Linked DNA regions of Homo sapiens. The protein of the gene in region 2 purifies or fractionates together with the protein of the main gene of each other region. This does not show direct contact. Each region holds a gene or a part of one and is shown on either strand. Other genes may lie near its edges. The genes, in order: C1orf87 and MINPP1.

The links.
Region 1: the proteins of MINPP1 (region 2) and C1orf87 purify together in Homo sapiens (affinity purification with mass spectrometry; 2 studies listed by BioGRID and IntAct, with this or other methods). This does not show direct contact.

Annotation. Positions count from the first base shown.
Region 1 is NC_000001.11:59,989,738-59,993,919, reverse strand, and holds the end of C1orf87 (uncharacterized protein C1orf87), read left to right. Parts: intron 1-3,086; coding exon 3,087-3,247; 3' UTR 3,248-3,526; downstream 3,527-4,182.
Region 2 is NC_000010.11:87,514,751-87,522,055, forward strand, and holds part of MINPP1 (multiple inositol polyphosphate phosphatase 1 isoform 1 precursor), read left to right. Parts: intron 1-10; coding exon of another isoform or gene 11-40; exon of another isoform or gene 41-128; intron 129-6,285; coding exon 6,286-6,419; intron 6,420-7,305. UniProt on the Homo sapiens protein: Multiple inositol polyphosphate phosphatase that hydrolyzes 1D-myo-inositol 1,3,4,5,6-pentakisphosphate (InsP5[2OH]) and 1D-myo-inositol hexakisphosphate (InsP6) to a range of less phosphorylated inositol phosphates.

The DNA.
Region 1 (4,182 bases), on a different chromosome or scaffold from region 2:
GGCTGTGGTGGCAGGCACCTGTAGTCCCAGCTACTTGGGAGGCTGAGGCAGGAAAATCACTTGAACCCAGGAAGTGGAGGTTGCAGTGAACCGGGATCATGCCACTGCACTCCAGCCTGGGCAACAAGAGCAAAACTCCATCTCAAAAAAAAAAAAAAAAAAAGGATTCTTATTATTTTTTTATTTTGGTTCTGGTTAGAAAAGACAGGCTTTCCAACACTAAGATGGATTGTAAGGGCTATTTTATGCAGCTGTTCTGGGCATCCCCTAATGACAGAGTAAATTAGACAGATACAAATTTCATTCAGTGGACTTTTTGTTTGACTCTAGGCATCTTCTATCAATGGTAAAGCTTAGAAGATAGAAAATACTACTGTGATTCCTAGATGTATTTTTTAACATAACTTTTAATTTTTAATTAAAATATAAACTAAATGCTATCTATTTTAATAAGCAATTACATATATACTGTTTATATATTTTTAAAATAATGTTGATGACATAATTATTATAATTATCCTATAGTAAAATTTCACATTATTGAGTGATTACTAGTACTGGATACTGTGTGAACTTAATATTTTATTGATTTTCACACAATTTAATTACCTCTGTTTTCTTTTCCTTCTTTCCCTCTTTCTTTCCTCTTTTGACATTTATTTATGTATTTATGTATTTATGTATTTATTTATTTATTTAAGACAGGGGCCTCACTCCGTTGCCTGGGCTAGAATGCAATGGCATGATCACAACTCACTGCAGCCTCGACCTCCCAGGCTCAAATGATCCTCCCACCTTAGCTGGTGCATGCCACCACACCTCACTCATTTTTTTTCTTACAGTCATAAACTTATTCCAAATCCATGTCTTATATTTCCAGAGGCAGGGTGTGGAGAAATGGCCAGAGGAAGCAAAGCTAGACAGGACTGAGAGCAGCCATCCTATCCAGAAAACTTCGAAGATGCAATTGGCCAACTCAAAGAATGAGGTTTACATAAATGAAAGGACCACTGTTCTAATAAGAGAGACAGACAATAAATAGGCAATGAACAAACCAGAACAGAATAGAAAATGAACACACTGGAATAGAACAGAATAAATTAGGACCCCACCTATTGTGGCCTACTGTTAAAAATAGCGATTAGAGAGTAGTTGAGAAGGTGGCACCATGCACAATAGTACTTGCACATTTAAAAATGAGTAATATTTGGTATCTTAAACTGAGATGATAAGTATCTACCATTGCCCAACTCTAATGGACTAGTAGTGGCTTTCCGCAAAATGACAAGGCACTGCCTCTGGATTCTTTAGGAAGGAATTTCACCATCACTCTTACAGTTCGCACATATGAAGGAGAGTAAAAGAGGCCAGGCACAGTGGCACATGCCTATAATCCCAGCACTTTGAAAGGCATTAGGGGGAGGGTTGCTTGAGCTCAGGAGTTCCAGACCAGTCTGGGCACATAGTGAAACTTCATCACTACAAAAAATAAAAATATTAGCTGAGAGTGGTGGCACATACCTGCAATCCCAGCTACTCATGTGGCTTAGGTGGGAGGATCCCTTGAGCCCAGGAGATCAAGGCTACAGTGAGCCATGATCGTGCCTCTGTACTCCAGCCTAGGCAACAGAGTAAGACCCTGTCTCAAAATAAAAAATAAATAAATAAATAAATAAATAAATAAATAAATAAATAGACCCCTACTTGAAGCAATCTCTTTTCCCTCATTCCATAACGTACTGTAGTGGTTAACCTTAGGCAATCAAGAGACTTGCAGTCTCTAGGCTTTAGTTTTGCCCTCTGTGAAATGGGTTATTGTAAGGATTCAATTAGTTAATATTGGTGAAATGCTTGGAGCAGTTCCTGGAACATAGTAAATTTTATATTTAAATATTGTTTAATTATTATTGTTGTATCCCAGTTAATTTTCTGAATAACTTCTCTCCCCCACGGGACAGAGAACTTCCAGAGGTAGCAGAAAAATTCTCTAAATCTTCTGTATTCCCAAGCACAGTATCTGACACATAGATATTTGCAATTAGGGGCTTATGAGTGAGTTATTGATCTTCAGTGATGCCGTGGTCTACACTGCGACTCCTCCCAACAGCCATCAAAATCTATCCAATCTTAACATGGAAAGCATACTGACATTGGTATTGGCATATATAATGTGTGGGTACCAGAGCATATCCTGCAGTCATACACATTACCACCTCTATTACGCAGATTCAAACTCTGAGCTATGAGAAGTTAGATGCTTCACCTGTGATTGCACAGCAAGCTGGAGGGAGTCACAGGACAGTCAGTCCTCTGCATCTTTGTATTCCGCAACTACAGATTCAACCAACTGCATATCAAAAATATTTTAAAAAATAGAAATAAAATATAATGACACGACAACAAAAAAAAGTACAAATTTTAAAACACAGTATAACAACTATTTGCATTGCAATTGCATTGTATTAGGTGTTACAAGTAATCTAGAGATGGTTTAAAGTACATGGGAGAATGTGTATAGGTTACATGCAAATACTACTCCATTTTATATCGGGGCTTGAGCATCCATGGGTGTAGGTATCACTGTTGGGGAGGGGAATATTATGGACCTAATCCCTGCAGATACCAAAGAACATCTATAAATACATTTAGAGAAATGCATTTTGAAAATAAGCTGTTTAATCCCTGCATGTTTAGGAATGTGTTTGGAGACTTTAACAAGATAAAAAGAACTCAGGACAATTAGAAGTTACTTTTGCTAGGCACCCCCAGTGTTTCAAAAATTGGCCTTACAAGTTTTAAAGTTACAAAGAAAAGCCTAAATTGCTTTAGAATTTATCTATGGATCTTATTGGATCCCATCTTGTTCTCTTTCCCCTGAAATCACCCTCAGATTCTTCCTGAAATCTGTGATGCATACCCACAGCTATAAATATTTTTTAATATGCCACTTGATTTTTAAGAAGCTTAAAATTGCAAAGTATTAGCATTTAGTCTTTACCTGGAAGTCATTCAAGCTAATATATAGTTTTCTCTGTTTTCCCTCCATCCTCTTTAAAAAACCTTCCTCCTACCCAATCCAATCACAGGAGTTCTGGAGAAGGAACGAGCCAGACGCCTCATTCACAACTACAATCTCATTTACAACCTGTCCCTGAGCCCTCAGAAAATCGACCAGGCCTTGCGCAGATTCCGTTCGGGAGAAAATATGCTCTTGGAGCCAGCACTGCGGTACTTAAAGGAGCTATGATAACAAGCCCATATTGTGAGAACAGATGTTTCCCTTATCTCCCTTTTTACCCAGACACATGTTTCTCCCCAGCCTAAGTGTAGTGGCGGAGGCATTGTCAGAGTGGAGGCCGATGCAGCTATTGTAGATGCTTTTGATTTGGACTTAGTTTCTGGCTATGATGCTCACTCATAAGCAGTTCAAAGTGATCAGAGGAAACCTAGTTTTATCTTTTGATGTGGCAAGAACCCAGCTACTTAGAATCTCCTTCTGTTTTAATAAAACTTATTATTAATATTACATGTTTGATTTTTTCCTACATTGCTAATCAAACTATGTTGTTTCAAACCCCACAATTCCACATAGTAAAAAAAACATTAAATGTTGCCACTTCCCCACAGTGCCTGGAACCTAGTAGACCTATGAACATCATTTTTGGATAGGTAAATCATCCCTTCTCCTGGTCATTATTCTAGGAAGGATTTCCATACCATAAGAAAAATAAAAGTATTACCAATACACTATCTTAATCTTAAGCAGTAGAAGAAACATTTCAAGTGAGGTTTTCTGAACAAGTCCAATATTTTCTGCAGTACAAAACTAAACAACATTACACTGTCTCCAGGGGTATTTTCCAAAAGTCCAAGATAGAAGTTTTGAGGAAGGACTCCTTGGGACAAAGCGTTTTGGGAATAGGTAACATCCTTTGCTCTGCCTGGACAGGAAAACCAGGTGGAACTTTCCATCAGCTCCCATAGTTCTTCTGTTCTTAACATCCCCCCTGACTTTGCACCACTCACATAGCACACAGTTACACACGTATCACACCATACAGGTAGCATGAGCTCATTGAAGAAACACTGGCCTGGAGCTTCAGAGACAATGTGCTCCCAGCACCATCACTAATACTGGGTGATCAGGGTACTGAGTTTCCAATCTGTGTGCCAGACAAAATG
Region 2 (7,305 bases):
TGTTGCCCAGGCTGGAGTGCAGTGGCGCAATCTCAGCTAACTGAAACCTCTGCCTCCCGGATTCAAGTGATTTTCCTGCCTCAGCCTCTCCAGTAGCTGGGATTACAGGCGTGTGCTACCATGCCCAGGTAATTTTTTTATTTTTAGTAGAGATGGGGTTTCACCATGTTAGCCAGGCTGATCTTGAACTCCTGACCTTAGGTGATCTGCCCGCCTGGGCCCCCCAAAGTGCTGGTATTACAGGCATCAGCCACCACTCCTGGCCAGTGATGTTTGATCATTAGATTACAATGGTGCCTGCCTGATTTCTTTATTGTAGAGGTACTTTTTTTCCTTGTAAATAAAGAACTTCTTGGCCGGGCGTGGTGGTTCATGCCTGTAATCCCAGCACTTTGGGCGGCCAAGGCGGGTGGATCACCTGAGGTTAGGAGTTCGAGACCAGCCTGGCCAATGTGGTGAAACCCCGTCCATACTAAAAATTAAAAAATTAGCCAAGCGTGGTGGTGCACACCTGTGATCCCAGCTACTCGGGAGGCTGAAGCAGGAGAATCGCTTGAACCCAGGAGGTGGAGGTTGCAGTGAGCCAAGATTGTGCCACTGCATTCCAGCCTGGGCAACAAAGCAAGACTCTGTCTCAGAAAAAAAAGGAAAAAAGGAAAAAAAAGAACTTCTAATTTAAATGACTGTGACTTGAAAATTTAAATACATGTTTATTAAATTAATTGAATAATAGTTTCTTTTTACATGTGAAAAGAAATTAAATTCTTCTTTTAAAAATTAAGGTTGTCTTTTGATTGAGGTATTTTCTATTATTTACTTCAGCAATTTGTTAGAAAATAATTTATCCCTGCTTAGGACTTTCACTGTGAAATAGGTTTATATGCTGAAGTATTTACAGGTGAAATAAAATGATACCTGGGATTTGCTTCAAAATAATACAGTGGTGGTGGTAGGAGCAAAGCTGAAATGGGATTGGTTGAATGTTGATTATTGTTGAAGTTGGATGAGTACACAGAGGTTCGTTATACTACTGTTTTATATTTTTTATGTGTTTAAAGTTCTTTGTTAAGAATTTTTTTTTTTTTTTTTTTTTTTTGAGACAGAGTCTTCCTCTGTCGCCCAGGCTGGAGTGCAGTGGCCCAATCTCAGCTCACTGCAACCTCTGCCTCTTGCGTTCAAGCAGTCCTCCTGCCTCAGCCTCCCCAGTAGCTGGGATTACAGGCATGTGCCATCATGCCCGGCTAATGTTTGTATTTTTAGTAGAGACGGGGTTTCACCATGTTGGCCAGGCTGGTCTCGAACTCCTGAACTCAAGTGATCCGCCCGCCTCACCCTCCCAAAGTGCTGGGTTTACAGGTGTGAGCCACCGCACCTGGCCAAGAATGTTTTTTACAATTAAAAATTAATAGACATTTATGAAATTCTGAGATAATTAGATATCCTGGACTTTGTGTACCTTCAGCAAGCATTTTTTGAGTTTCCGTTCTGTGACAAGCACTTGCTTGGAACTAAAGACACTAACATAAGATAGATATTGTCCTCAAAGAATGCCACAAGGAATGAAAGACATGTAACTAAACCATTGCAAGACAATAGGATGTCTATACAGTGATAGAAGTATACTCAGATGCTCCTTAAGTTATGGTGGGGTTGCATCCAGATAAACCCATGGTAGATTGAATATCTTAAGTTGGAAGTACATTTACGACTTACAATGGATTTATCCAGACATAGCCTCGTTGTAAGTCAAGGAGCGCACTGAAAGTGTATTGCTTTTGAACCATTGTAAAGTTGAAAAATTTTAAGTCAAACCATCATAAGTTGCAGACTGCCCATGAAAGGTGTAGTGGGGCACAAAGGAGAAAGTTAATTTGTAGGATAGCTTTTTTGCAATTTGTGTCTGCTTTAATAAGTATATCTAGATTTTCTCTCTCCTGGGATTAGTTTTGGTATTTAATATACCTATAAAAGTCATTTATGTTATCCATTATTTGCTGAATTAAGCAAATATATCTTTTGATTTTAAAAAGTGTTTTCCTTCTCTGAAATTATTTCTCCGTAATTGTGTATTTTTGCTTTCAATTTTTTCTTTATTACAGTAGTTTATTGTTTACTAATTTATTTTTTCCCTAAGAAACAGTTTAGCTTTATCTGTTTTTGAACTTTATAATGATGGAATTACTCAGCGTGTGTTTTTTTTCTTTTGGTATCTAGCTCTTGTTCAACATTAAGTTTTTAAGATTTATTTGGGAGCTAAATGGTGAGAACACATGGACAGATAGAGGGGAACAACATACACTGGGGCCTTTCAGAGGGCAGAGGATGGGAAGAGAGAGAGGATCAGGAAAAATAACTAATGGGCACTAGGATTAATAACTGGGTAATGAAGTAATCCATACAACAAACTCCCACGACACAAGTTAAAAAAAAAGCTTCCCATTTATAGATTGCTACTTAGAAGGCAGGGATTTGAACTGGGAGGAATTTAAAATGATCTTGACCTGTTGTGTTGTGAAAAGGTTTACAAATTTCAGGAAAATATACCTCTTCTCAAATGGATTGGGAATTATGAGGTCACAGACATTTCTCAGGATTCCGTAAAACATGTACCTGTAGCAGAGTATTAGAGGAGATTGAAGCAAAGGGGCAAGCGGTAACTTCTTGGGGGCGATTAAGTCATTGTATTATCATGGTGGGGGCAGGTTATACAGTTGTTTATATTTGTCGAAAGTCATCAGCCTGTATATTTAAATCATGTGTATGTAAATTACAATTTAATAAAGTTTTAAAAATGAAAAAAGATTTATGAGGTTGCATATAGCTACAATTTTTAATTTTCATTACTGTATAATATTCCATTATATGAATATTTTACAGTTTATTCATTATCTTTTCAGTAGACATTGTTTTTAGTTTGGGGCTATTATGAACCTTGTTGCTATGAACATTATTGTATATGTTTATTGGGGTACAGGTATACCTGTTTCTGAAGGTGTATGTCTGGTAGAATTATCGATTCTCATGCTTCAGCCTCCTGAGTAGCTGGGACCACAGGCATCCGCCACCACACCTGGCTAATTTTTGTATTTTTAGTAGAGACGGGGTTTTGCCATGTTGGCCAGGCTGGTCTTGAACTCTTGACCTCAAGGGAGCCACTTGCCTCAGCCTCCCAAACTGTTGGGATTACAGGTGTGAGCCACTGCACCTGGCCTTTTTTTTTTTTTTTTGAGACAGAGTCTTGCTCTGTCACCCAGGCTGGAGTACAGAGGCGTGATCTCGGCTCACTGCAAGCTCCACCTCCCGGGTTCAAGCCATTCTGCTGCCTCAGCCTCCCGAGCAGCTGGGATTACAGGCACCCGCCACCACACCCGGCTAATTTTTTGTGTTTTTAGTAGAGACGGGGTTTCACCCTGTTAGCCAGGATGGTCTCGATCTCCTGACCTCGCAATCCGCCTGTCTCAGCCTCCCAAAGTGCTGGGATTACAGGCGTGAGCCACCGCACCCGGCCCTTTTTTTTTTTTAAATATAAAGTTTTAGTGGTAAGCATGTGAGAATTTTTTAAATCTCCAGTTGCCTCCTTTTTATTTCTAATAGTAGATTTTATTATTTGAATAGATTGAACAGACTATTATCTAATTCCTTTTTAAATTTCTTAGTGTTTACGTCTCTTTGTTAACTTCTTGATTTCATTGCCTTTGTGTAAGGACAGACTCTCTCAAGCCGTGTTTTTCCTTTACTCTCACACCACCATCACAATCATCAACACAGAAGACTTCTGTGACCAAATGTGTGGGAGCCTTTCCCCTGCACGCCAAGCAGGAGACACCAGCTGGGTGTCCTCCAGTTCAGATTTGACATTGTCTACCTGGAGGTAGTATTAGATCCCACAGGTTGAGGGCTCAGTCCCCAAGTGCCCCATCGGTACTCTTCTGTTCAGCTGGCTTCAAGTTGGCGTTCCCATGACCTCTTCTTTGGGTTCAGTTAATTTGCTGTAGCAGCTCACAGAACTCAAGGAAACACTTTTGCTGGTTTATTATAAAGGATGTTACAAAGGATACAGATGAAGAGATGAGTAGGGCGAGATATGGGGGAAGGGGCGTGGAGCTTCCATGTCCTCCCTGGGCATGCCACCCTCCAGGAAGCTCCACATGTTCAGCTATCTGTAAGCTCTCTAAACCCAGTCCTCTTGGGTTTTTATGGAAGTATTCCTTCCCCCCAGGATATGAGGCAGGACCCTTTCAGGGCAGGATCTTAAGACCCCCAGAAAGGCAGGAAGATTAGAGTTCTGCCTCCGCACAGGTGAAAGGGAGGCAGGAGAGAGATTCTGTTTCCTGAGGCCTGCCCTGGAGGCCTAACACACCCAGCATTATACCAAAAGACTACAACAAGGGATATGGGAGTTACAAACCAGGAAGTGTGGACGAAAGCCAATATATACATATCATAATACCACAGGTCAGCCCCTGGTTTTCGAAGAGGGATACCTTACATCAAAAGAATATATACAATCATTAATAATCCAGTCCATCATCTGTATGAATGTCTTCCAGGGCAAGGCCACTCAGGTTTGCCAGCTTCCTTTCAATCCTGTCAGGTTCCAAAACCAGGAGTGGTCTTGGCAAATTTATGGCTTCACCCTTTCATGCATCTGTCATACTTGAGCTAAGAGACAGCGTCACCTTTTGCTCTGAGCCCCGTTCAAGGCGTTCATGTAATATGTCATTTCCTTCAATTTATAACCCGTTTATTCATCCTTTTTCCCTCAGCTGTTCTCCTTTTCTTCATTAATAAATATCTACACTGCTACCTTTGGAAGGGACACAAGTTGCCATTGTGCTGTGCTAGTCTAGATTGTAGGCAGCAATGCTAGTGTAGCAAGTAGCTCCTCCTCACCCCTTTAATGTATTTTTTGTTTTGTTTTTATATATGGCACTGACCCACCCCTGCTCTTAAAACTTACTATGACATGCACTTAGTTTCTCTAGGAGCTCTTTCGGGAAGAAAGGTTTGTGACTATTGTAGTCATCTTGAACCTCTTTTGGGTTACATATTTTAGTCCCCTAGTTGTGGTTTTAGCTACAGGTTTTAGTTCTAGATAGAGATTTCAGTTCTCCACTTCTACATGAGCAAATGATCAAATGATATGTAAGTGGAAAATTTAACCCTCAGATAAAGGCTACTTAATTACCAGCTCCCGGTTCCAGACCTTTCAGCAGAGGTTAATAACTGTAATCAGTGATAGGTAGGTTTCAAACCGTTTTCTATACTTTTATAATCTGTATCATTCTTAGAAATATAAAAGGTATAGTGTGTGTGTGTGTGTGTGTGTTGGTAATAAATGGTATTATAGGGTATGTATTATTTTTAATGGGTTCTTATTCAACATTGTGTCTTGGAGATTTTTCCATGTCAGTACATGGAAATCTATAATATAGAACTTTTTGATAACTGCAAAGTATTCTGAAGTATGTGTATACCATAGTTTATTTAACCATCTACCTACTATTGGAATTTAGTTGTTTCTGGGGATTTTTTGGCTTCTATAAGCAGTGCTACTATAAGTCATTCTTGTACATTCTCCCTGGTGTTCCTCTGTGAATATCACTTTATAAGAAATGGAATTAAATGGGTCATAGGGTATGTGTGTTTTCATGGATTTTGCCAATTTGCCCTCTAGAATGTCTATACCAATATACATTCCTTCCAACAGTACCCATTTCCCCATATCCTTGGTACACTTTTATTATTATTTTTTCACCAAACAGATACATGAACCAAAGTAACTCATTTTCTATTTGACTTCTACCTTCTCAAAATTCTTATACATTTCTCATCCACCTATGGTATCTTTCTGTGCTTTAATGAATATTCTTCTTCTTTATTCTTTCTTCTAAATGTATCCTTGACATTTAGAAGAAAGAATAAAGAAGAATATTAATATAATATCATCTTAATATAATGTTAGAAGAAAGGAGAGGTGAGCACATGTCCTTACTCCACTCTCTTGAGCTGTCCTGACCTTGGATGATTGGCTGTGAGCACTTACTGGCTTGCTCTTGCACACCAGCATCTACATTCCCCCAATCCAAATTTGTGATGCAGCATAAATCTCTCTGTGGTATGAACCTTAGGGACCAACTCTTAAATGCTGGAAAGGACAAATACTATATTTTGTGCAGAATGGTAATTAAACATTGTAACCATTTCTTAGAGAATCATTATTAAATCAGGGAATCTTGTTATATTTTTGAAAATATATTAGAAATTATTTTTGAATTTTTTTAGGTATTAGAATATTTAAATGATCTGAAACAATATTGGAAAAGAGGATATGGGTATACTATTAACAGTCGATCCAGCTGCACCTTGTTTCAGGATATCTTTCAGCACTTGGACAAAGCAGTTGAACAGAAACAAAGGTAAGAACTTTCTAAAAAATGTGAAGTACATTTTGAGTTACTACTAAACTTCTGGAAATTTTTTTATAATGAGTAATTTTAAAAAATAGTTTTTGCTTGTGTTTTAAAAAAATTTTAATATAATGTGATACAAAAGAATTCGATAACATATATGTAAATTATAAAACATACGAACCTTCCACTCTACCCAAGAACTAGAATATTCATAATAAATTGCATTTGTTTACTTATGTGTTCCTCAACTATTCCATTTTCCTGCCTCCTCTTGCCCTTCCCTTTCCTCCAGAAACTATTCTTTGGAATTTTGTATTGGTCATTCCTTCGCCTCTTTAAAACAGTTTATATTATGAATGTATTGGTGCCCAAAGAATATATTTAGTTTTTCTTGGAATCATACTGCTTATTGTCTTTTGGGACTTGCTTTGTTTCCCCCCTCAACTTTATGTTTTTAATATTCAACATATTATTGCATATAGCTGTAGTTCATTTTCACTGTAGTACAATATTCAATAATGTGAATATACCATCTACTCTTGTCAGTGGGCATTTAGATAGTTCCTATCTTTTGCTGTTATAATTAGTGTAATTATGAACTCTATGTGGCTCCTGCTATGAATGTGCAAAATGTTTTTGTTTTGAAAGAGAAAAAGCTTTTGTTAACATTTATAATCTTCAATTAAAAATAATTTTTCATGACTTGAACCTTTGATAGAACCTCAATTCCAGGCTTGTTTCAAACTTCTGGGCTCAAGGAATCCTCTCCCGTTGGTCTCCCAAAGTGTTGGGATTACAGGCATGAGCCACTGCACCCAGCTGAGCACAGAGAACTTTGTAGGTGGTAGAAGTTTTCCCAAACTGGATTGTGGTGATTACACAGACAGCTGTA